Regions from separate parts of the Homo sapiens genome. Here region 2 is linked to region 1. A link means that fine-mapping ties the variant in region 1 to the expression of a gene that starts in the linked region. Tissue or cell type: left ventricle. Region 1 holds a variant in brackets; the other region holds the start of a gene. All regions are shown on one strand. Distances are from middle to middle.

The links. PIP is the estimated chance that this variant, and not a neighbour inherited with it, causes the effect.
Region 2: SYTL5 starts here. The variant in region 1 is fine-mapped to the expression of SYTL5 in left ventricle (GTEx, PIP above 0.99). The same link has a PIP of 0.9 or more in atrial appendage.

The regions. Positions count from the first base shown.
Region 1 is chrX:37,906,577-37,914,269 of GRCh38, forward strand. It overlaps a transcript of SYTL5 not described here. Among named protein-coding and RNA genes, the nearest start is that of DYNLT3, 63 kb to the left of the region's middle. The variant G/A (reference allele first, on the strand shown) is at 3,884.
Region 2 is chrX:38,002,868-38,010,560 of GRCh38, forward strand. SYTL5 (synaptotagmin like 5) reads left to right here and starts at 3,686. Exons shown (of 17, transcript NM_138780.3): 1 at 3,686-3,801.

The DNA.
Region 1 (7,693 bases):
CCCTCTCCAGCCCAGGACATGCCAGCGCTTAAGGTAACTGCAGTTGTTGCATATCTATCTCGTTATCACTGACTGAATCGAAATGTTCCGGAGGCACAATTAATGTGAATGCCAGAATGTTGAAACAATTCATTGAAGGACACTATTGAATGTTTTATTTTCAAAGTATCGTATTCCAGGAAAATTTTAGAAGACTATTGCTGGTTTTATTTTCTCTATTTTCAGATATGCTCCAAAGCCTATTATTCCCTTGCAAGACAACCAGTGAGGACCTATTCTGTTTCTTATAAGGATTTAACAGTGCAAAACTACGTGTTAGTTTCTCCTCTAAGGTTAGGGACCTCCTTCTGTTAACCTCTTTTAGAAAAATCATTTTGGTGGTGGTGGCGGGGAGATGTTTCCCCTTTCTCTATCATTAAATGCAAAATGTTTCTGTGACTATTAAGTAAATACTAATTATTGTTATTTTTGCTTAAAAGGAGCAGAGGAGAGCATCTCCCAGAATGCATGAATTTGTGGTTCATATTGATAACTGATTGCTTTACCATCAAATTGTTTGGTTTGATGCAATGTTAACAAGTGGTCTTAATTCACAACACAGAAGTATTCTATTCCAGAAAACAACCCTGCTGATATGCCTGCCACCCCCACCCCAAAATGCACACACAAAACCATGTTTTTGTCTTGCTTTGTGGGAGAGAAAAATGGATGGGGTATCTTTTCTGGCAGTTGATTAGTCCCCGATCTTTCTTGAATTGTCATTTGTTTTATAACCTATAATTATAGAAAAGAACCCTCCTTGAAATAAAATTAATAAAACCTTACATGTTTAGTCAGATCACAGGAATAATTTTTTAGAGTTGAGTGGAAGCTTCCATGATCCTCTTCCAATGTCGTCCCCGGGGAGCCGTTAAGCTTCCCACTTCTCTGATAACATAACTCCTCTACTCTACATACCTCTATCTTAGCTCTTACCACCTTATGATTCTAGGTTTACATATCCATCTTGCTTAGAGTAATAAAATTTATTTGGAAGCAAGGGTAATGCCTTATTAATCTTTGTATCCCTGGAGCCTAGTAAAGTAAGGTCTGTTGAAAAAAAATGAATGAATAAAATAATTTGGCAGTCCAGATTAGGTTTACCATTCCTTGAAATCCACCTGTGCATTCTTTCTCTTCACTCCTAAAAGATAAGTCATTTAATTCAATGGTACTCAAAGTGTGGATCCTCAGAATACACTGTGTTCTAAATAAATGAGAGTTTTCTATATTTGAAAAAATCTATATATTGTTGTGAACTTTAATATTTAATTTTTTATTTTTTATTTTTTATTTTTTTGCTGAAAGTAACAGAAAAGCCAACTAAACATGGCTTGTAATACTACAGAAGTTTAGCTGGGCGCAGTAGCATGTGCCTGTGGTCCCAGCTACACAGGAGGCTGAGGTGGGAGGATCCCTTGAGCCCAGGATTTTAAAGCTGCAGTGAGCTATGATTGCACCACTACATTCTAGTTTGGGTGACAGGGTAAGACCCTGTCTCTAAAGAAAAAAAAAAAAAACAAAGAAAATAGAGAAGGCTGACAGTAGGTAATAACTGGAGTTGATACAGTGACCCAACAATATCAGGGTTCTGAGTCAGTGTCTTACCCTCATGGCTTCAAGATGGCTCTAACAGCTCAAGACACTCGGTCCTAATCCCATGTTCAATGACAGGAAACGGGGTGGAAAAGGTCAGAGTATTTTTCCTCATGCAACTTTCTCATCAGAGAAAAAATATCCTTCCCCAAATTTATCTAACAGAATCCTACTTTTATCTCATTGGCAATATCTGGGGCACATAGCTGCCCTTAGTGGCAAAGGAGACTGGGAAAGTATCCGTTTTTTCAGCTTCTATAGTGGAAAGGCAGCCAGGGAGAGGCAGGTAGGTGATGTATTTGGGGAACTGACCAGAAAGTCTTCTAGACTGTCAAGAAAATAAGTCTTTTTGAACCTGTGATCGTATCAATGTTCTGGCCAAGTAAAATACTAAATATTAATCAATGTAGCAAAAGCACACATTTAGAGCAGATTTCCCCTCTCCACATGGGTATATGGTATTTTAAGGGTGCCAAATCACTTTTATGGAGTGTGCTAACTTTTAGAGACTGCACCTTGCCTGTGTGTGTGTGTGTGTAATCTCATAGGGTTTCTATTAAGTATGGATCAAACCCTCAAGTTCCTGGAAAAGAGTAAATATTCAGTAAATAGTTGTCCTTTGAGTGGAGTGTTGAGTTTGGGAGCTTCAAAACTTCACAGGGACATGGGAAAGGATTTAGTGAGGAAAAAAAACTGATGAGTGGTTTGCTGCCAATGCCTTGGAAGGCTGGTTTACAGCATCTGAATGTCTTTAATTTGGATCCTAGGAGCCTGGAGGGAAACTTAACAAGAGGGAAAAGAAGAACCTAGGGAGAGGTAGTGGCACTGACAACTTGGTTCAACAGATTATCTTTGGGGACCTTCTCTATACCTGTACTGGGGAAGATGTACTACTGCCCCCCTCCCCCACACACAGTTCAAAATGGTCCCTAGCACACACACACACACTAAAACTTAAAAAGTTGAAGCATGAAAAGAGTGTATATTATTGCCCGCTTTGATTTAACTTTCTCTTTTCCAGTAGAATATTCTCTCAAATACTTACAGAAGGTAGTTTTTGGACATCATGGTGGGAGATCAGATAAGCAAGTATCGAGAGATTGAAATTTAATGATTACAATTGTCTTAGATTTCTCATCAATGAAAAGAATGGAGTAGATCAAGCTTGTCCAACCTGTGGCTTGCAGGCCACATGCAGCCCATGACAGCTTTGAATGTGGCTCAACACAAATTTGTAAACTTTCTTAAAACATTATGAGATTTTTTTTCAATTTTTTTTTTTTAGCTCATCAGCTATCATTAGTGTTAGTGTATTTTATGTGTGGCCCAAGACAATTCTTCTTCCAGTGTGGCCCAGGTAATCCAAAAGACTGGACACCCCTGGAGTAGATTAGCAGTGGTATTCAAACTTTGTTGCACATTAAAAATTACCTGGGGAGGTTTTTTTGTTTGTTTGTTTTCTGTTTTTATTTTTTTTTTTGAGATGGAGTCTCACTGTTGTTGCCCAGGCTGGAGTGCAATGGCGTGATCTCAGCTCACTGCAACCTCTGCCTCCCAGGTTCAAGCGATTCTCCTGCCCCAGCCTCCCAAGTAGCTGGGATTACAGGCACCTGCCACCACACGCGGCTGATTTTTGTATTTTTAGTAGAGACGGGGTTTCACCATGTTAGCCAGGCTGGTCTCCAATTCCTGACCTCAGGTAATCCACCCGCCTCAGCCTCCCAAAGTGCTGGGATTACAAGCCTGATTCATCATGCCTGGCTGGAGAGGTTTTTAAAATCAAGATTTATGAGCTGATCCTCAGACCACTTAAATTGGAACCTCTGGGAATGGAACCCAGGTATCAATATTTTAAAAACTCCCTAGATGACTCCAACATGTGCCTGAGTTTGGAAACTATATTAGTTTGCTAGGGCTGCCATTCAAAGGACCACAGACTGGGTGATTTAAGCAACAGAAATGTTTCTTCTCACAGTTCTGGAGGCAGGAAGTCCAAGATCAAGGGTTGGTTGATCCTGAGGCCTCTCTCCTTCACTTGCACCTGACCATCTTCCCCCTGTATCTTTACTACAGTCTTTTCTCTGTGAATGTCTGTGTCCTAATCTCTTCTTATAAGGATGCTGGTCATATATTGTGTCAGGGCCTAGTCTAAAGAGCTAATTTTAACTTGATTACCTCATCAAAGGCCTTATCTCCAAATAGTTATATTTAGAGCCCCTGAAGGCTGGGACTTCAACATGTGAATTTG[G/A]GGGAGACACAATTCAGCCCATGAAAGAAACCATTGGACAAGTACAACATTTCTCAAACTTTAATGTGCGCACCAGTCACCTGGAGGCCTTATTAAAATTTAGATTCTAATCCAATAAGTCTAGGTGGGGTCTGAGATTCTGCAGTTCTAACAAGCCCCTAGTGATTTCAATGTTACCAGTTTACAGATCATACTTGAAGTAGCATGGTTCTGTCTAGATGAGTGGTTCTCAAACTTTAATGGACATCGGAATCACCTGGAGAAATTGTTAAAAGCAGATTGTTATGATCCAGCCCCAGAATTTCTGATTCCATAGGTGTCGGGGTAGAGCCCAAGAATTTGCCTTTCTAACAAGTTCCTGGATGATGTTGATGCTGCTGGTGTAGGGATGATACATTGCAAACCATGTATCTCTGACATTTTGAGACTTTATGGTATTGGATGAGTCAGGGTCATTACATACATCATTGTATGTGAAGTTTGTAATTCTAATTGCTGATAGCATTACTTTTTTTTTTTTTTTTTGGACAGAGTCTCACTCTGTTGCCCGGGATAGAGTGCAGCGGCGCCATCTCAGCTCACTACAACCTCTGCCTCCCAGGTTCAAGTGATTCTCCTGCCTCAGCCTTCCGAGTAGCTGGGATTACAGGTGTCTGCCACCATACCCAGCTAATTTTTTAAAAAATATTTTTAGGAGAGACGAGGTTTCAGTATGTTGGCCAGGCTGGTCTTGAACTCCTGACCTCGAGTGATCTGCCTGCCTCGGCCTCCCAAAGTGCTGGGATTACAGGTGTGAGCTACTGTGCCCGGCCAGCATTACATTTTTCTTTTTGCCAAGCATAATTACTTTTTCTGTTAATAGGACGAAGGATGAGAAAGTGGGAGAAAATGCTGTATTGGGATTTCTTTTAATCTCATACAAATAGAAGTGAATAAATACAGAGGCTACACATCAGCCCATTAGTCTCTATTCATGTTTGTTCTCCAATCATAGAGCTATTTTGCAGCTTGCTCTTCTAGAAGCTCAAAGCTGATTTTATGAGATTGGTTGCATACTTCTCATATGCGATTTTTAAAGGATTAACCATTCTAGAGATTTCATGGGGCATTGCAAATTTCCCCCCTAAAACATTAATTTTAAATTATTTCTAATTTAATCACACAATTGTTTCTACACGAGACCAACAGTGAGCTACATCAAAGAGTATCCCCTCCCCAAAATTATTGGATATGAAGAAAATATTTTACCTGACTTCATAGAATTAAATCGGTAAAATTCACATTTTGTTACTGTTATTAGAAAATTTGATATATATATATGTGCTATATATAGGTGATATATATACACACACATACATATACGTACATGTATATTGTATACACACAGGTTATGATTTTCTATTTGCTTAATTTAAAGCATTTTATGTTATTTTAAATTGTTCTTAAAGCTCTATTTATATCTCCATATGAAACAGTGAAAATATTTCTATTTTAAACTTAAAAAGGTATTCAACTTGTAATCCAATAAGTATTTTAAACAAAGATGTAATCAGGTTTCTAGCTGCCCCATTTACTCTGGGCCTATTATCTAAAGAATGGGTCTTGCTAAAGTATTTCCCTTACAACTTTTCCAAAGTTATGCCAGATGTATAGGGCTTCTATTAAGAATAGATTTACTATGCCATAACTGTTTTGAGTTTACCCTCATAGCTTTCCCACATGTTCCACATTCTTGGTGAATTTTTCCAGTAATGCACCTCCCAGCACTGTCAATGGGAAGAGGTTACCTGTCATGTTTCTAGCCTGAGCTTCTGACCACCAGATAACAGAAGCCCAATTGTGGAGATGGATACAACAAGCCCAATGCCGTTAAAGATCTGAACTGTATAATTAATTCTGTTTCTCCTGACTTCATGCTCAGCAGTCAGCCTTAGGATGCCACATGTTCATTGCCTTCAGGGTGAGAATAACCTGGTCAGAGTGTCTGGTCTCCCTGACAGTTATATCTCCCATTGTAAATTACTAAGCCGCCACTCTAGCTTTAAACACTTATGAGTGTTGTGGGTGTGAGTCAGCACCCAACACCCTCAAACCTAATAAATACAGGGACACTGATAAAGATCAGTTATCTGGGGGTTGGCTCAAAGCTAGGCCCTGATGCTGATGACTCATCGAAGTGAATTAATACCAGCTAGCATTTATTAAGTATTTTCTGCATACCAGCCACTGTGCAATTTTATTTATATTATCTTATTTTTCCTCATAACAACTTTGTGAGGTAGTCATGTTAATTTCCATTTTACAAATAAGAAGACTGATATATGTATATTAAAAACCTGCTCTAAATCAAATGACTATTGTGGCAGGGACTTTGAGTTGCCATGCAATATCTATTCCCACCTTCTCCCTTAGTGGCAGAATACCAGTTTTATTACTGGTAATGATGTATCTAGCAAATAGTTTCTATTTCCTGGCATCCCTTGTATCAAGGTGTGAACCTATGACTGAGTTCCACCAGTGAGAGGTAATTGTGTTGTGTGGTACTTCTAGGAAGCCTGCTTAAAGGGATTTGACTTGGCTGGGAGGAGGGCCCTTTTGTACCTCCCCCTTCTTCCTCCTGCTGTTAGTCTTGAATGCAGGCATGATGCCTGGAGCCATCTTGGACCATGGAGTGACTGACTGGATGTAAGCTAGCATTAAAGATGCTGGAACAGAAAGGTAGAAGAAATCTGGGCCTGTGGTGGCACCATGGAGCTACTGTGCCAGCTCTACCACAGAGATCTTTGTCTGCTATTGAAACCAATTGGCATTCTGTCAGCAGAGATGAAAGGTAGAGTTGGCTATTGGTAGGCAGTGGACAGTGTTTTCATGCTATATACCAAGTACCTAATATTTGATCTGTGATAGATACATGTGTTTGAGTTTCATCTCTGCCACTTACTAGCTATGTCTATTGGACATCTTTTGTGCCTCACTGCACAGCCTTATAGCCTACCATTTAATTAAGCCGTTAGTCCATTAACCAGCTTTATGTGGGTAAAACCAGAGAGTGCCTTGCCTTAGCCTCACAGCAAATATCTCACTTCTCACTCCAGGACTTCTTTGATGTTTCAACAGGAAGGCCTGTTGGAACACTCTTGTACCCACACATGTGTGTTATGGAATGTGAGGGAGTTAAAGGCCCAAGAGCCAACCCTTGACCAATGTGAGATGGGAACCTAAGATAAATAGTCCCTCCTCCATCCTTGGCCTGATAATTCTCAATTGCCTTTTAATAGTGTTTGTTTCCAAGAGATTCTCAGAGGGTCTAACTAAGTAGGATTACGCCCTAGTTGTTTACAGTTGTGACCAACTCAAAAATACACTCCCGTATTGGTTTTCTCTCTTCTTTTCCTTTCCTGAATTTCCTACTTCTATTCCCTAGTATCACTTCCCCAAACAAACTACCTACATTGAAACTCTTGTTTCAGCCTCTGTATAACCTTCTGTGTAACCTTGAAGTAAGCTATGCTGACAAAACTTTTTAGCACTTGCTGACATTTTTATGTCCCTTCTATGATGAGGCAAAATACTATCTTTGGTGTACAAAGATGAAAATACATCATGAGATCTGATAATTCCAACTATTGTATGAATGTGGATCAATAGGAACTCATACTTTATTGATAGGAGTACAAATTGGTACCATTCTGGAAAAGAAAATTTAGTACTGTCTTGTGAAGTTGAACATTTTGCATACCCTATGACCTAGCAACTTTATTTCTAGGTATATCACCTAGACAAATACTCCTACATGTGAAGCAGGAACTC
Region 2 (7,693 bases), 96 kb after region 1:
TTAATGAGATCCCATTTGTCAATTTTGTCTTTTGTTGCCATTGCTTTTGGTGTTTTAGACATGAAGTCCTTGCCCATGCCTATGTCCTGAATGGTATTGCCTAGTTTTTCTTCTAGGGTTTTTATGGTTTTAGGTCTAACATTTAAGTCTTTAATCCATCTTGAATTAATTTTTGTATAAGGTGCAAGGAAGGGATCCAGTTTCAGCTTTCTACATATGGCTAGCCAGTTTTCCCAGCACCATTTATCAAATAGGGAATCCTTTCCCCATTGCTTGTTTTTCTCAGGTTTGTCAAAGATCAGATAGTTGTAGATATGCGGTATTATTTCTGAGGGCTCTGTTCTGTTCCATTGGTCTATATGTCTGTTTTGGTACCAGTACCATGCTGTTTTGGTTACTGTAGCCTTGTAGTATAGTTTGAAGTCAGGTAGCGTGATACCTCCAGTGTTGTTCTTTTGGCTTAGGATTGACTTGGCAATCTCCTTAAGCTGATAGGCAACTTCAGCAAAGTCTCAGGATACAAAATCAATGTACAAAAATCACAAGCATTTTTATACACCAATAACAGACAAACAGAGAGCCAAATCCTGAGTGAACTCCCATTCACAATTGCTTCAAAGAGAATAAAATACCTAGGAATCCAACTTACAAGGGACGTGAAGGACCTCTTCAAGGAGAACTACAAACCACTGCTCAATGAAATAAAAGAGGATACAAACAAATGGAAGAACATTCCATGCTCATGGGTAGGAAGAATATATATCGTGAAAATGTCCATATTGCCCAAGGTAATTTATAGATTCAATGCCATCCCCATCAAGCTACCAATGACTTTCTTCACAGAATTGGAAAAAACTACTTTAAGTTCATATTTTGAGTTTTTAAAGGAACCTTCAAACTGTTCTCTAGAGTGGTTGTACTAATTTGTATTCACACCAACAGTGTACAAGTGTTCCCTTTTCTCCAAATCCTCACCAGCATTTGTTATTGCTTCTCTTTTGGGTATAAGCCATTTTAACTGGAGTAAGATGACATCTCATTGTAGTTTTGATTTGCATTTCTCTGATGATCACTGATATTTAGCACCTTTTCATATGCCTTTTTGCCATTTGTATGTCTTCTTTTGAGAAATGTCTATTGAGATCCCCTGCCAGTTTTTAAATCAGATCATTATATTTTTCCCTATAGAGTTATTCGAGCTCCTTATATATTCTGGTTATTAATCCCTTGTCAGATTGGTAGTTTGCAAATATTTTCTCCTGCTCTGTAGGTTGGCTCTTCACTTTGTTGATTGTTTCCTTGCCATGCAGGAGCTTCTTAACTTGATGTGATCCCATTTGTCACTGTTTGTTTTGGTTGCCTGTGCTTGTGGGGTATTACTCAATAAATCCTTGCCCAGTCAAATGTGCTAGAGAGGTTTCCCAATGTTTTGTTTTTGTTGTTTCATAGTTTGAGGTCTTAGATTTAAATAGTACAATCGCATGGAGAACCGTTTGTAGGTTCCTCAAAAAATTCAAAATAGAGCTACCATATGATCCAGCAATCCCACTCCTGAGTATATACCCAAAAGAAAGGAAATCAGTATATTCAAGAGATATCTGCACTCCCATGTTTACTGCAGCACTATTTACAATAGACAAAATTTGGAAGCAATATAAATGTCCATCAACAGATGAATGGATAAAGAAACTGTGGTACATATACACAATAGAGTGCTACCATCTATAAAGAAGAATGAGATTCTGTCGTTTGCAACAACATGGATGGAACTGAAGGTCATTATGTTAAGTCAAATAAGCCAGACACAGAAAAAAAATTTTGCATATTCTCACTTACTTGTGGGAGCTGAAAATGAAAATAATTGAACTCATGGAGATAGAGAGTAGAAATATGGTTACCAGAGGCTGGGAAGGGTAGTGAGGTGCTGGGGGGAAGTAGGGAGGATTAATGGGTACAAAAATAGAAAGAATGAATAAGACATAGTATTTCTTAGTACAACAGGGTGACTATAGTAAAAATAATAATTTAATTGTGCATTTTAAAATAATGAAGACAGTATGATTGTATTGTTTGTAACACAAAGGATAATTGCTTGAGGCTATGGATACCCCATTTACCCTGATGTGATCTTTATATATTGCAAGCCTGTATCAAAATATCTCTGTAACTCATAAATATATACACCTACTATTTTTCCATAAAAATTACAAATAAAAAATCCTAAAACTCAGCCCTTACAAGATCTGCAGGGGAGACAGAATTTGTAGGTTGATCTCCCAAATTCATCAGGCTTGGAAAGGACCTTAGACTTTCTGCATAACTACATTAGCAAAACCAAACCAATTCTATGGAAATGCCAATATTAATAGAACAAATATTAATACTCCTCAGAGGGAGATAGCAGAGTCTTTACACTATATGATCCCCATTGTCCAATATGCAATAAAAAAATTCAACATGCAAAGAAACAAGAAAATATCACCTATTGTCATAAAATCAGTAGAAACAGACCCAAAAATGTCCAGTTGTTAAACTTCATAGAAAAAGACTAAATCAATTATTATGTATTCAAAGAACAAACAGAAAATAGGTTCAAAGAATGAAAGGAAAATATGATCTTTATAAATGTACAGATAGTGAATTTCAGCAGAGAAATGGAAACTATAAAAATAACCACATGGAAATTTTAGAGCTTAAAAAATTATAGTAACTGAAATTAATAACACACTAGATGGGCTCACATTAGTTTGGAGATGGCTAGCATCAAATGAGCTTGAAGACAGATCAAAAGTAATCATCCAATCTGAAAAAAATGGAACAAAACATGTATCTCTAAACTTTTTAAAGGTGTTGTATTGACTTCTTTTGTATGAGTTTTTTAACATAAGAAAGTAATAACTCTCTTGGTACTTCAAGCTAGACTCACGTTTTCGATTCTCCAGGACACCACCTTTGGGGTTCCCCACTGTAGCTAAAAGGGACCTGGCTATGGTAACATAAATGGGTAATCACCTTGGCAGAAGTGATCTTAACAAAAATTTCACTTACTTCAACTAAAGATTCAGTACCATACAAGCACTGAGAAAACCTCACTCATTCTCTAATGTTCAGCTGAGCAATCACATACTGTTACACATTTGTCTTCTAAAAGTCATACATACATAGCACAGTGCTATGATTAGATACCTGGACTATGGTTATGGAGTGCCTGGATTTAACTTTTGACTCCAGTACTTACTAACTGGGTGACTGTGGGCAGACTACTTAGTTTGTTCATTTGTAATATGGGGATAATAATATTATACACCTAACACATTTGGAGAATTATTGGAGAGGATATATGTAAAGCACTTACAACAGTGCCTGGCACATATGTGTTCATTGTTATCACGTTTCTCCCAGGTTTTTTAAGAATAGAGATTTTCAGGGGTAGAAGAATATTAAAAGAGTGAATCACCTTTAAAACACTGGTGTAAAAAATACCTCATGTCAAAAAATGTTTAAAATGTGCTTTAGATGAAACCTGTTACCTTTCCCCTGCTGATCAACAGAGACATTCCTTTTTGAAAGCTCAGCTTTAGAGATACTGCCTTCTTCTTGAAATAGCTGTCTGCAACAGATAAACATTACTCTGTGCTACTGGGTGTGTTCAATGTGTAAATAGATTGTGGGAATATGAGAGGCTGGTTTTTCAAGTTCCTGCTCCAAGTAGTTCACAAGGGTCAAGTAGTCCAGCATTCTACAGTTTGTGTGTTTGAGAGAAAAATAAGCCCATAAAAACATTCTAACCTTCAGATTAAGGTAAGACTAATGCGTTTAGGGATCTCCAGTGTGATATCTGATTTCTTAATTTCTGTATTTTGTGTGTGGTAGGGGAGTAGTGGGATTTGCTGGTCAGGAAGAAAACAGCTCCTTCCACCATTTGATATTGTATTTTACAGTAAAAAAGGGAGAAATATGTACAGAAGGGACATTTTGGCCATTGGTAGCTATGAGTTTAATGGATTGAGGAGAGAAATATAAGTATCTTTTTGTTATTAACACTTGATTCTATCTATGAAGTGAAGCATTGCACTAGGTTCTACTGAAGAGTGAGTGCCTCCAGGAACAAATATGCATTCTAGTGACATAAAAAAATCAAATTCACAGCAGAAGTGTTGCATCATTTTGCTATAAATCTCTCACACCTCTCTATATAAACCTCTCACATCTCTATATAACATAGATTGTCCTTTTGCTCTGAATTTCTTTCATTTATTAGAAAATTTAGATGTTTCATTTGGAATTATTTAATTGTTTTTACATTCAGTTCCATTTTTGATATGGACAAATATCCAGTATGGATATAAATTCAGTAGAAGGATTAATAAAGTCTGAAAAACCTGGAATAATTTCAACATGAATATGATACTGTAACAGCTTACAGAAATGCGATATTAACTGTGAACATTAATATACTCTGAAAAGATGCATCAGGGTTTAAAAAATTTCTCCTTAATGTAGATTGTTTTAATTACCAATACTGTCTTCCTCATTTAAATGAAAAACGTAATTTTACAACTATTAATATATAACTTCTCTTTGCTCCAAGTATATGTGTATGCCTGGAGAAAAGCATATGCCTGGAGAAAACAGGAGTTATATATTTATAGCATTCAAAATAGTATAAAATATTGTTTACATGTAATAATGCATTTAGAAGTACTACTTCAGTAGTAGCCTCCTTAAAAAGTATTTTAAACACAGGAATTAAGTATATAATTTTTTCATTTTGTAATAAGTTGTTTATATGTTATTTGGACAACAGCTTACACACAAAAGTGTTACAATTCATACCCTAGGTCTTAAATGCATGAAGCCATTTGTTTGGACTCTAGTGAAATCCTTAAATTGGTCCTTGCATCCCTCAGTATATATATGTACATACCCACATATACATGCATATTTACATGTGGGCAACTAATAACTGAGAAAATGTCTTACTGCTCTTTTAGTTGTTGAATCATGCTTTTTCTATGTATTTATGATTTCCTGAAATTCTTTGCTATTTTAAGTTTGGGTATTAGCTATGTTATCCTTCTATTTATTCAGATTTGTTAAAGTCTTCTGATAGGTTTAGTGAATAAAATTATTGAGCTTCTACCTCTTTTCTTTTGGAGGCCCATTTAGTATTTTTGTTGAAATTACTTCCTTATTATTATTTAGTATGTTAAGGGAAGGAAAAGGAAATGTAGCTTTAATATGTAAAATGAGCAGTTCGTTTTACTTAAGCTCTATTATATGATGATGTATCTTATGACTATTTTGCCATCCTGCGTAAGCACTTAGCTAATCATCTTTAATACATTCTACTTAAAATCTACTTGTAAATATGCTTTTGTACATTCATATCTTACTTGTCTGTGGTCTCTCATCCTCTTTCTCTCTCACCCCTCTATATACATTCACACATTTTCCATGATTTCACAAAACTTCTCTCCAACCTCGTTCCATTCCTGGTTATCTCTTTCTGTGGGGAGTATCATCATTTCCTTTGACCTCTGTTTCTCTACATCTTCCATCTTGCTTAGCCCATGGACTTTTGATTTTACTGAAGACAGCAAAAAAGCAGATGGTGCTTCTGTTACTTGCAGAGTTAGCAACCGCTGTGGTTACCTTAGGTTCTGAAAGATTATCTAAAATAGGGAGGAGCTCCTAGAGGAACAAAATATAATAAACATGTAGTGTACTGGGATAAAAAATTCACTTGATCTGGTCTCTCTCTCCTTTTAACAAAAACATTTCTCTAAGAAGTGATTAATAAAACATACCCTACTGCCTCACTTTCTCTTTTAAAATCTTTCTTTCAAATTCCCCTATGACATAAAATCAATCTTCATCACTTTATTGACACTGTACTTCCAAGGGTCACCTGTAGTGCTGCTAGGAAATTCAAGTACATTCATTTATTTATGTATTCATTCATCCATTCAATAAATATTTATTTAGTGACAGCTATGCATCAGGCATTGCTGAGCACTGAAGTTACAGTAGGGAACACTTAAGTCTGCCTTTATATATCTCCAGTCTAGTTAGGAAGGGTGTTAACTCACCCAAATAATTCATTACAAGTGTGATAAGGGCTATAAGGAATACTTTTCCAAATTCTCATTTTATTCATCCCCTTGGCTCTATGTGACACACATGATCAATTCCTACTTCTTAAATTTTCTCTTTCCTTCTTGTCCATGACTCTATACTATTTATTCAACTGCTTTTCTACCACTTCCCTTCTTGTCTATTTTTCCTTTTCTCTTCCTTAAGTTTGGGTTTCCCTCAAAGGTTTAGCATTTATTTAGCCTATAACCTATTACGTTTTGCCTTTCTCTATAACTTCTTATCAACCCTTAGTTTTAAATATCACCTCTAAGTGGATACCTCCAAGACTTCCATTTCCACATCTTATCTTTTCCATCTGCTATACATTTTCCCACTTGTATGTCCAAGGGTCACTCGACATTCATCATGATTGTAGCCAAACTCACAGCTTTTATGTCAAACCACTTCCCCTTTCATTTCATTTGTTTCTGTGAATGGCATTAATGATCTCTTGGTTTCTCACATTTGAAATCTTGGAGTCAATTTTGCTTCTAACTTTTCCTTTGCTCTCAATATCCAAACCACTACCAAGTCCATTCATTTCTTTAATTATAATGTATCTAGAAGCCATCCTCTCTCATCTCCCTTTTCTGTTATTTTTTTCTTTTATTCTCTATTTTCTCATCCTTTTTTCCCTCAGTCTAAGAGCTACCTACAATTCAAGGTTTTGGTCAGGCCCCATCTCCATCAGAAAGTCCACACCTCATGGATATCTTCTTTTTCTAAGCCCCAGAATCATTGGGGTAGTGAAAAGAACATAGCCAAAGAGCCAGGTTTAAGTTTTGATTCTACCATTCACTGCCCCCTGTGCACTCTCTGTGAACCACAGTTTCCTCAGACTCATTCTATCTCATATAGTGGCCACAGGAACAAATATAGTCATGGAGAGGAAATCATTTTGAACTATGAAGAACTATATAGATATTAAAGTAAGATTTGTTGCTGGAAGAATAACTCAGTAGCAGAGACCAAAACCCCAGGTCTTAACTATTGAAATCATATTGTGCAGGGGTTGAGAGTGTTGACTCTGCAGTCAGATGACCTGAGTTTGAATCTCAGCTCTGCTACTTACCAGCTGCATGAAATTGAGAAAACTTAGTTAGCTTTCCTGTTGCTGAGTTTCCTCACTGTCAATTGGGGATAACAATAGTTTCTACTGATAAGAGTGTTGTAGGATTAGAACGTTTAGTAAATGTAAAATACTTAAAATAGTGCCTAGCTCATAGTAAGTGCTCTGCAAATGTGGAAGAGGTGGTAGGGGCCTATGAGGCTAAGTGTGGTTACGAGGTGAAAGCCAGGTATTAGAACTGAGCCACCAGATGGGGATTAGGTACAGCAAGGATGCAAGCACAGAGCTACAGACTGGACACATGTACCTAGATGAATCCCTCATGATTCAGATAAAAAAAAGAATGATCTTGCCATTTGGGGCAGAACTGAGCAAATGATGGAGGTATGAACGTTCTGAGCGACCATTCGGGGCACAAAAATGGGGATAACAGTCTTTCAGACACATTTTCTTTTTGTTAAAGAAGAACAAATGTTAGATTGCCCT